3 linked regions of the Homo sapiens genome follow. The protein of the gene in region 2 purifies or fractionates together with the protein of the main gene of each other region. This does not show direct contact. Each region holds a gene or a part of one and is shown on either strand. Other genes may lie near its edges. The genes, in order: IPO7, TMEM126A and TUBGCP2.

Evidence for each region.
Region 1: the proteins of TMEM126A (region 2) and IPO7 purify together in Homo sapiens (affinity purification with mass spectrometry; one large-scale study listed by BioGRID and IntAct). This does not show direct contact.
Region 3: the proteins of TMEM126A (region 2) and TUBGCP2 purify together in Homo sapiens (affinity purification with mass spectrometry; one large-scale study listed by BioGRID and IntAct). This does not show direct contact.

The regions. Positions count from the first base shown.
Region 1 is NC_000011.10:9,426,028-9,429,683, reverse strand, and holds part of IPO7 (importin-7), read right to left. Parts: intron 1,145-3,656; coding exon 1,055-1,144; intron 919-1,054; exon of another isoform or gene 730-918; intron 654-729; coding exon 488-653; intron 11-487; coding exon 1-10. UniProt on the Homo sapiens protein: Functions in nuclear protein import, either by acting as autonomous nuclear transport receptor or as an adapter-like protein in association with the importin-beta subunit KPNB1.
Region 2 is NC_000011.10:85,653,911-85,657,104, forward strand, and holds the end of TMEM126A (transmembrane protein 126A), read left to right. Parts: intron 1-152; coding exon 153-346; intron 347-1,683; coding exon 1,684-1,798; intron 1,799-2,398; coding exon 2,399-2,591; 3' UTR 2,592-2,632; downstream 2,633-3,194. UniProt on the Homo sapiens protein: Protein required for the cotranslational protein quality control in the inner membrane of the mitochondria.
Region 3 is NC_000010.11:133,302,272-133,305,927, forward strand, and holds part of TUBGCP2 (gamma-tubulin complex component 2), read right to left. Parts: intron 710-3,656; 5' UTR 671-709; coding exon 521-670; intron 1-520. UniProt on the Homo sapiens protein: Component of the gamma-tubulin ring complex (gTuRC) which mediates microtubule nucleation.

The sequences.
Region 1 (3,656 bases), about 76 Mb from region 2:
TATTCTTTAGCTGTAAGAGAAAGAGTAAAAAACTTGCGTAAAACCCCTAAAACTTCTTAAAACCTGATATAACAAATATCGATGAGTTTTTTAAAAAAGTACTTTCACATAAAAAGGAAGTATGCCAAGTTTCTAGGATTATGGCTTTTTACAATTAATATATATATATATATTTTATAAGAGGCAGGGTTTTGATCTGTTGCCCAGGCTGGAGGGTAGTGGCAATCGTAGCACACTGCAGCCTCGAACCGTCGGGCTCTAGTGATCCTGCTGCCTCAGACTCCCAAGTAGCTGGCACTACAGGTACATGCCACTATGTCCAGTTAATTTTTAAAAATTTTTTTTGTAGAGATGTTGCCCAGGCTGGTCTTGAACACCTGGCTTCAAGCGCTCTTCCCACCTAAGCCTACCGAAGTGCTAAGATTACAGGTGTGACCTACCGCACCTGGCCAACATTCACTTTTCTTGACATACAAAAATCCTTTACCTTTTTCTTGATTGCTGATCAATACTTGAAGGGCAATGGCAGCTTCCACTTTCACAGGCATTTCTCTATCATCAATCAGACATCTTCTTGTTAGCTCTAAGGCTGTTTGAAGGTTCTGATCACTTTTGAACTTCACTTCACAAAAATAGTGAAGTACCCAGCAAGCCTTTTGTAAAAACACAGTGAGTTACTGTAGATACCTTACCTTAAATTCCCCCAAGCTAATCTCTATTCCCTGAGTTCTGTGTGTGGGAATTTGGAGGCTGGCCAGTGGTAGATGTGTCCAGAGACAACACTAGACCAGTACTATGATCCCAAGTTACTCTTTGGCCGCATGATGTTTGTGTGGATAGCAAGATCTGAATGAAAAACACAGACAGACACTGCTACCAGACACAGATGAAACCTATGCACACATTACAGCAGCCATGTAAAGATTTACATTAAACAGAAACCTAAAATAAGACACAGGCTTCAAAGTGAACATTTAAAAGTTTCAATATAAAAGTCCACAGAGTCATTCATTACAAGACAAAAGTATATAAATAATGCAGCTTTAAAACATACCCTTGCTCTCATGTAGCCTAGTTCACTGCTGAAGAGAGGGAATACATGATTCTGCAACATGTATTCCATCTGATCTTTATAGATCTTTTTCTGTAAATATAAACAACAGTTATTTTGATACAGTTCCAAATATAATCATCTCAATTTCCAAACAGATATAACACTATTAAAAATGACTATTAATGTTACATATATTTATTCTCATTCTTTGAACCCCAGAATCCACAACCAATTTTCGTATTCCAGAACTTCACCACCAAAAACCACTAAACACATTTTCACGTTTTTATATTCCTTGATTAGAAAGCCATTATGCCAAATCTTACCAGCAATAGTGTTCGAATGATGTAAGTTTGGTTAATTTTATCTGTTACTATGAAACTTTTATAAGGAAAAAACTTGTCTGATAAAGTTTCTGGCTGAAAATAACATAACCTGAGAAAAATCCTGCTTTCAAACGAATAAACTGGCTATCTAAAAAGGCACACTCTTTTTTTTTTCTTTTTTTTTGAGACGGAGTCTTGCTGTGTTGCCCAGGCTGGAGTGCAGTGGCACAATTTCGGCTCACTGCAATGTCCACCTCCCAGATTCAAGTGATTCTCTAAAAAGGCACTCTCAGTATTCAAAGTGAGTATTTTCTAAGTGGAAAGAAGCTTTTTAGAAGAGTTCCTTAAACTGCACATTAAATCAACATTAAAAACATAAGACACTTATATATCAACACTTACATAATCAGACATGACAACTTAATGCAATGTGAGACCCTAGACTGGGTCATGGAACAGAAAAAAGGACATAGTGGGAAATCTTGTGAAACTTTAAAAAGGTCCATGGATTAGTTGATAGTAGCATACCAAAATCAACTTCATGTTTTTGATAACTTTGCCTACCTATGTAAGGTATTACCACTAAGTGAAGCTGAGTGAAAGGTAAGAATAGATAAACTTGAATTTGCCAAGAGAACTCACTAATTCTCAGCCTTCTATGCCACAAATGATTAGAATGTCTTTAATACATACTTTATAAACAAAGAGAAGGATGGGTGAACAGGTATAGAAAAGATGAAAGACGGCCGGGTGCAGTGATTCACGCCTGTAATCCCAGCATTTTGGGAAGCCGAGGCGGGTGGATCACCTGAGGTCAGGAGTTCGAGACCAGCCAGGCCAACATGGTGAAACCCCATCTCTACTGAAAATACAAAAATTAGCTGGTGTGGTGGCAGGTGTCTGCAGTCCCAGCTACTCGGGAGGCTGAGGCAGGAGAATCGCTTGAACTCAGGAGGTGGAGGTTGTAGTAAGCAGAGATCACGCCACTGCACTCCAACCTGTATAACAGAACGAGGCTCCATTTCCAAAAAACGAAAAGATAAAAGACACAATGACTAAATATTCTGTGAGTACTTAGTGCCTGGCTTTAGAATGTAAAGATTTCTAACAACTCAATTATAAAAAGACAAATAACCCAATTAAAAATGGGCAAGGGCCAGGCACAGTGGCTCACGCCTGTAATCCTGGCACTTTGGGAGGCTGAGGCAGGCGGATCACCTGAAGCCAGGAGTTTGAGACCAGCCTGGCCAACATGGCAAAACCCCATCTCTACTAAAAATACAAAAATTAGGCTGGGGGCAGGCACCTGAGGCATGAGAATCACTTGAACCCGGAAGGTAGAGGTTGCAGTGAGTCGAGATTGCGCCACTGCACTCCAGCATATGGCGGGGGGGCGGGGAGGCGGAAATCTCAGCTACTTGGGAGGCTGAGGCAGGAGAATCACTTTAATGTGGGAGACTGGTGGCTGCAGCGAGCCAAGATCTCACCACTGCACTCCAGCCTGGGTGACAGAGCAAGACTCCATCTCAAAAAATAAAAAGAAAAAAAACAAAGGCAAGCAATTTTTTTGGGGCAAGGAATTTGAATAGATATTCTCTAAAGAAAATATACAAACGGATAGTAAGCACATGAAAAATTTCAAAGCCACAAAGACATAATGCTTCACGTTCACTAGGATGGCTATAATCAAAATATACTGCTGGCAGAAATATAAAATGGTATAGCTACGTTGGAAAATGGGTTCTGCGGTGTCTCAAATTATGACAAGCAATTCATACTCCTAGGTATATACCCATGAAAAATGAAAACGTATGTCCACATAAAAATTTAAACATGAATGTTCACAGCAACATTTGTAAGCAGCCAGAAAGTAGAAACAACTAATGAATGAGTAAATAAAATGTGGTATATTAATATAATGAAATATAATTTGGCAACAAAAAGGAAAAAGTACTGAAACCTGCTATAACACAGATAATCCTTGAAAACATTACACTAAATGAAAGAAGTCACCCACAAAGAGCTACGTATTATATGATTCCATTTATATAAAATGTCCACAATAAACAAATCCATAGAAAAAATGTGGACTATAGGTAGCCTAGGGTTGGGAGATTTGGGGTGATATGTGGAGTGACTGCTAATGTATACAGAGTTCCTTCTGGGGGTGATAGTTATACAACTGTGAATAAACTAAAAACCACTGAGTTGTACACTCCATAAGGTTGTTATTTTTTATTTTTTTATTTTTTTTTGAGACGGAGTCTCTGTCGCCT
Region 2 (3,194 bases):
TATATAAAGCAATTTTTAAGATTTTGGTTCTATAAGGGATAGATGTCGTATCCAGTTAGTGTATTCCCAAAGTCCTATAACACATGTCAAGATCGGGAAAGCTCACACACACAATAATGCCAAAGAAAAGTTCTTTCTTCTCACCCTTTCAGGAATCTACTTGAAAATGGATCGGTTTATGTTGGATTAAATGCTGCTCTTTGTGGCCTCATAGCAAACAGTCTTTTTCGACGCATCTTGAATGTGACAAAGGCTCGCATAGCTGCTGGCTTACCAATGGCAGGGATACCTTTTCTTACAACAGACTTAACTTACAGATGTTTTGTAAGTTTTCCTTTGAATACAGGTAAATTCTACTTCACTATCACCAAAGAGTTTGCCTTAGTATATGTTATTTGCAGCTTTAGTCCATACTTATTAATATCAAGTAGCTGTATGCTGTAATGCAGTTAAGATTAAATCTTGCTAGCCTATATAATGTGGCAAATAATTCATATTAGTATGGTCTACCAACCAAGATGCACATACACAGCAGTTCTAAATACTTTTTCTTTAATTGAGATGGAGTTTTGCTCTTGTTGCCCAGGTTGGAGTGCCCTGGCGCAATCTTGGCTCACTGCAACCTCCACCTTCTGGGTTCAAGCAATTCTCCTGCCTCAGCCTCCTGAGTAGCTGGGATTACAGGTGCCCACCACCATGCCCGGCTAATTTTTTGTATTTTTAGTAGAGACAGGGTTTCACCATGTTGGCCAGGCTGGTCTCAAACTCCTGACCTCAGGTGATCCACCCGCCTTGTCTTCTCAAAGTGCTGGGATTACAGGCGTGAGCCACTGCACCCGGCAATACTTCCCTTTTTCTAACATATCTTTCTCACAGTGCTCATTTAGAGTAAGAAATATTTGGAAATCCATATATACATATATATGAAAATTATATATATGGAAATATTATATATATACAAATGTATATAAATAATATGTTGGCTACCTTAGATTTTTTATTTATATTTTATAGAGAAGTTCCTTAAAGGGGGAAAATATTTTTATGGGAATAACTCTTTATACAGTAAATCTCTTAAAGCACTAAATGCATATACATTTATCAAATACATGGAGATTTGATTTCCTTTTGAAAATCTACCATGTGTGCTGAATACTTTGAGTACAGTTAATCATAAAAAAAACTTTTGATTAATTATTTCAAATAAAAATATTACCATGGGTGCTAGGGAAGGCAGTCCATCTAAATTTTGTTAAGTGCTGCTCCAAATTTGTTTAAATTTGACGAGTATTTTGTTTTAATTCCCATGACCAGTGGAAACAATTTCTATGATCAAGGAAGACCTATCGCCCATTTAATTGAACAGACTGAGTGAAAATATTAGCCTAGGTCTGTTGATAAAAAACAAGGCAGAAAGCTAGCAGTAGCCCAAACCATGAGATTATTATATCTAAGTTGAGAACAAATTAGAGAACTTTTTTTCCTAAAATAGTTTTACCAATTATTCCTAGCTATTTTAAGTTACTCATAGATGTAATTATACCTTTTAACAGGCTTTGTACAATTACATTTGATATATTACCTGAAAAATACCTGTGATACACAAAAGAGGATCTTACATTCTTTAAATCATGTTTGCTTGACTATCATGACCTTCATTTCTATGACTAATTTATTTCCTAGGTGATTTGGATTGTGAAACCTGTACCATAACACGGAGTGGACTGACTGGTCTTGTTATTGGTGGTCTATACCCTGTTTTCTTGGCTATACCTGTAAATGGTGGTCTAGCAGCCAGGTAGGAAATAAAAAACTTTTTATAATATGTGATTACCTATAAAACTCACAACTTAAAGCAGCAAATATATTTTGTTTTTAAGGCATTTAGACCAAAGGCAATGTTACCCTCTTGATTAGAAGTTAGCAAGACCTGTTTTTTCTTATAATGAAATTCTACTTATCAAGAATTTCAAACAGTTATACTTGGTGTGTAGTTAGGCTATTAACCTTAATTTGTGTACTGAATACTAAACTAACTACAAAGCTGCAAACAGTATTATGCATGAAACTTCTATCATATAAACAATTATCTTGGATGAGTTTGAACACTTGCACTAAAGGAAAATTCCATCAGAAAATGTCTAGCTGTTATATTAGCCTTCTATTCTAAAATAATTCTGGCTATTCTCTGTTGAACTCTTGCATCAGCAATCTATGCTATAGCCTTGAAGCAAACTGGATAAAGAAACAAAAGTTTTTAGGATTAATAGACACTGAAGACCTTTACTTTAATATTCAGTTTTATCTTAAGACTTCTAGGACTAATATGTATCACAGATGGGTTTGCCATTTGATGCAACAATCTTTTCTATTGAACTATCTCAATGTTTTCTTACAGGTATCAATCAGCTCTGTTACCACACAAAGGGAACATCTTAAGTTACTGGATTAGAACTTCTAAGCCTGTCTTTAGAAAGATGTTATTTCCTATTTTGCTCCAGACTATGTTTTCAGCATACCTTGGGTCTGAACAATATAAACTACTTATAAAGGCCCTTCAGTTATCTGAACCTGGCAAAGAAATTCACTGATTTTAAACAAATATGTAAACAAAAATAAAATGGTAAAAACAGTTTATGTCTAATGTTATGTCTAATGTTATGCATAAACATAGACTTGTAATTTATCACGAGGTATAATTCTGGGACCTACAACAAAAGGCTACACAGGGCAACAAAAGGCTGAATCTAAGTAAAAGCTACCCACTTAAACAAGTTTAACTTCACGAGTTTGCCCAGTATTGTCTCTTCTACCTTGCTTGTTCTACCTTAGGCGTTGAGTTTGGTCTGTAACACAAGAGGAAAAAGTAACTATATAGTATTTTACACTGAAGACTTCATAATGACAAACAGGAATAAAAAATGAAAAAATATCTATCAATATACTATACCAAATGTTACTCACAATTCACTTTCTCAATTCAAATTATTAATCCATAGATTCTTAGAACTGATTTAACAACCTTCCTCAAATCAATCATCTTCTTGAGTCATTCAGGCTCAGCTTCAGCTATTATGATATAGACCTACCTACTTCGAGTCACCTTATTTAGAAAGCTGTATTTTTAGTTTAGGTAGTCTTTCAAGCTTCCATTTATTGTGGCATATTTAGAATCACAAAATTAACTAATCTCT
Region 3 (3,656 bases), on a different chromosome or scaffold from region 2:
CCCTGCATCTTGCACGGTACACAGCCCTGCACCAGGGGCAGTGCTCACCCTGCACCATCCTGACCCCGGGGTGGCGCTCACCCTGCACCCCGCACAGCCCTGCACCAGAGGTGGCGCTCACCCTGCACCCTGCACCAGAGGTGGCGCTCACCCTGCACCCTGCACCAGAGGTGGCGCTCACCCTGCCCCCTGCACCAGAGGTGGCGCTCACCCTGCACCCTGACCCAGGGGCGGTGCTCATCATGCACCCTGACCCAGGGACGACGCTCATCCTGCACATGGACTGAGGGGTGGGTTCACCCTGCACCATCCTGATCCAGGAACAGTGTTCATCCTGCACCCTGACCCAGGGGTGGGCTCACCCTGCACCCTCACCCAGGAATGGTGCTCACCCTGTACCACCCTGACCCAGGAACGGCGCTCACCCTGCACCCTGACCCAGGGGTGGGCTCACCCTGCACCACCCTGACCCAGGAACAGTGCTCACCCTGCACAGCGCTACACCAAGGGCAGTGCTCACCTTGGCACTGTGAGCAGAGACAGTGGTAGTGACGTACGGGGTCCTGTTCTTTTGAAGCAGGTCAATGTAGACCTCAGCCCCATCTCCTCCGTGGACACGCAGCAGGCTAAGCAGTTCATTGACGTCATGGTGAATCCGAAATTCACTCATAGTTTTAGCTCTGAGGCACGAACATCACAATATGTTCTCCTATAGGTAAGAAGACAGCTATTCATAAAATTCAAACTGTAGAAATAAAAAACATTTTTTTAAACACTCAAGACTGGCCAATGTCAGGCTTTGACAAACCAAGTTATCACCTGGCCTGCCTGGCCTAGGGCCCCTCCCCCAACAGCCCAGCAGCCTCTCAGAGGGTCCTCTGCATGGGCCTGGGATTAGGGCCCCTGCCCAACACCCCAGCAGCCTCTCAGAGGGTCCTCTGGACGGGACTGGGATTAGGGCCCCTCCCTGAACTCCAGCAGCCTCTCAGAGGGTCCTCTGCATGGGCCTGGGATTAGGGCCCCTCCCCGACACCCCAGCAGCCTCTCAGAGGGTCCTCTGGGTGGGCCTGGGATTCACCTGCCTCCAGCTTCCAGGCGGCCTCCGCAGCTCCGGGAGCCAGCCCCGTGGGCAGCATGAATGGGGCCTGAGACCCAGGTTCCCTTTCCCCTGCACCTCCCTCCACACATGGGTCTGGGCCAGCAGGGAATGCTCTGCTGCTCGCCTCGGCTTGGGGACAGAGCTTTCTGGTCCCAGACGTGAGGCCTGTGGGGTCTACACAGGGAGCTCTGTGCAGGCCCAAGCCATTGACACTGTGCCAGCTACCGGCACACACAGTAACATCCCAGCTTCTACCGGAGAGGCCCACACTGGTTCTCAGAGCCCGCGGTGCTCAGCCGCAGCTCCATTCACTTGGCCGGCTCTGCGTTACTTTTTCACTCTGGTACCCGTGACATCTCCTTTTCTTGCCCAAGCGTGGCTACCGACAGAGACGCTTCTGGTAGGACTTCTACACGTTCCCTACACGTTTGAGCTAGGTGAAGTTCCACTGCAGCTCCAGCTGCCCCAGGGGCTCACCAGGAGACATATAACACATATGAGATCGAAGGCGTCACAGACACCCAAGTGGGCAGCAGAACACTGCGTGGGGTCAGGGTGTAGGGTGAGCCCACCCCTGGGTCAGGGGGCAGGGTGAGCGCCGCCCCTACTCTCCCACCAGTGGCTGCTCATTAGCCTCTGTCACCAAGAGTTCCGATACAAGGCCATTAAGACAAACACATGGCTGTGTGCAGTGGCTCTCGCCTGGAATCCCAGCATTTTGGGAGGCTGAGTCAGGTGAGTCACTCGAGGCCAGGAGTCAAGACAGCCTGGGCAACACAGTGAGACTCTGTCTCTACAAAAAATACAAAAATTAACTGGGCATGGTAGCATATGCCTGTAGTCTTAGCTACTCGGGAGGCTGAGGTGGGAGGATCGCTTGAGCCACTCCAGCCTGGGCGACAGAGGGAGACCCTGTCTCAACAAAAAACAAAACAAAACAAAAAACACAGGCAAGGCAACTGGCTATAGATTACAAAACAAATATAAGCAAACTTTACATGCTTCACAAACATTTCATCTACACAAGGGTTCTTAAGCCGGTATCCATGAGTAATCAGTAACAGATGAGCCCTTGAAAGTTATGGGCAAAATAACTTTTTATTTTCTGAGGAGATGACCCTTCAACAAATTCTCAAAGGCTCTATGACCCAAAAAAGGTAAACAACCACTCTGCTGACAGCTTCAGGGAGACAAGGATGAGCTCAACAAAACATCGAGTGTGGGCGGCAAGCCACCCAGGTGCCGAGGCAAGAGACCGAGGGCACGAGCTGTTCCAGTGTAACAAAATATATAAAACAACAAGAGTTATGCTAGATCTAGATCATAGATATGATTATATATGAATATCATTAATCATCAGTTTGTAGCAATTACTCTTTATTCCAATATTATAATAATCCTTGCTCTACAATCATAACCTAGGAAAAACCAGGCCATACAGAGATAGGAGCTGAGGGGACATAGTGAGAAGTGACCAGAAGACAAGAATGTGAGCCTTCTGTCATGCCCGGACAGGGCCACCAGAGGGCTCCTTGGTCTAGCGGTGATGCCAGCGTCTGGGAAGATGCCCCTTGCCAAGCGGACCTTGGTCTAGCGGTAGTGTCAGTGTCAAGGAAAAACACCCGCTACTTAGCAGACCGGGAAAGGGAGTCTCCCTTTCCCCGGAGAGTTTAGAGAAGACTCTACGCCTCCAACTCTTGTGGAGGGCCTGACATCAGTCAGGCCCGCCCGCAGTTATCCGGAGGCCTGACTGTCTCCCTGTGATGCTGTGCTTCAGCGGTCACACTCCTGGTCTGCTCTCATGTTCCATCCCGTACACCTGGCTCCGCCCTCTAGATAGCAGTAGCAAAATTAGTGAAAGTATTAAAGTCTTTGATCTTTCTGAAAAGAACATAGAAGAAATAATGACATAAGCTGTCCTCTCTCTCTCCGCCTCGGCTACGTAACAGGGAAGGGCCCCATGTCTGGTGGACACATGACACACATGACCTTATCAATCATTGGAGATGACTCACACTCTTTACCCTGCCCCTTTTGCTTTGTATCCAATAAATAACAGCGCAGCCAGGCATTCGGGGCCACTACCGGTCTCTGCGTCTTGGTGGTAGTGGTTCCCCGGGCCCGCTGTCTTTTCTTTTATCTCTTTGTCTTGCGTCTTTATTTTTACAATCTCTCATCTCCGCACACGAGGAGAAAAACCCACCGACCCTGTGGGGCTGGTCCCTACAATAGAGTACAGAAGACTCAGCACATACTCCCACAATATGCTAATTCACTAACGATTATTAGCACGGGACTCGACACCGAGATTCTAATCCTGTGTGATGGAAGACAGTTTATCTGTAGATGAACATCAAATACTGGTCACAGGCAGGGTATCTCCGAAAATGGAAGGAGAGCGATAAGAAGGCATGGTGCTGAGTTGCTCACACACATGCTTTTGACCCAGGAGGTGCTCACGGTAACTACAGTTCAAGCACAAGGCCAGCAGGGCACGCGCCATGGAGCCCCATGCAGTCTGGACACTGACGTGGCTACTTCTAGGCTGTGGGACCCT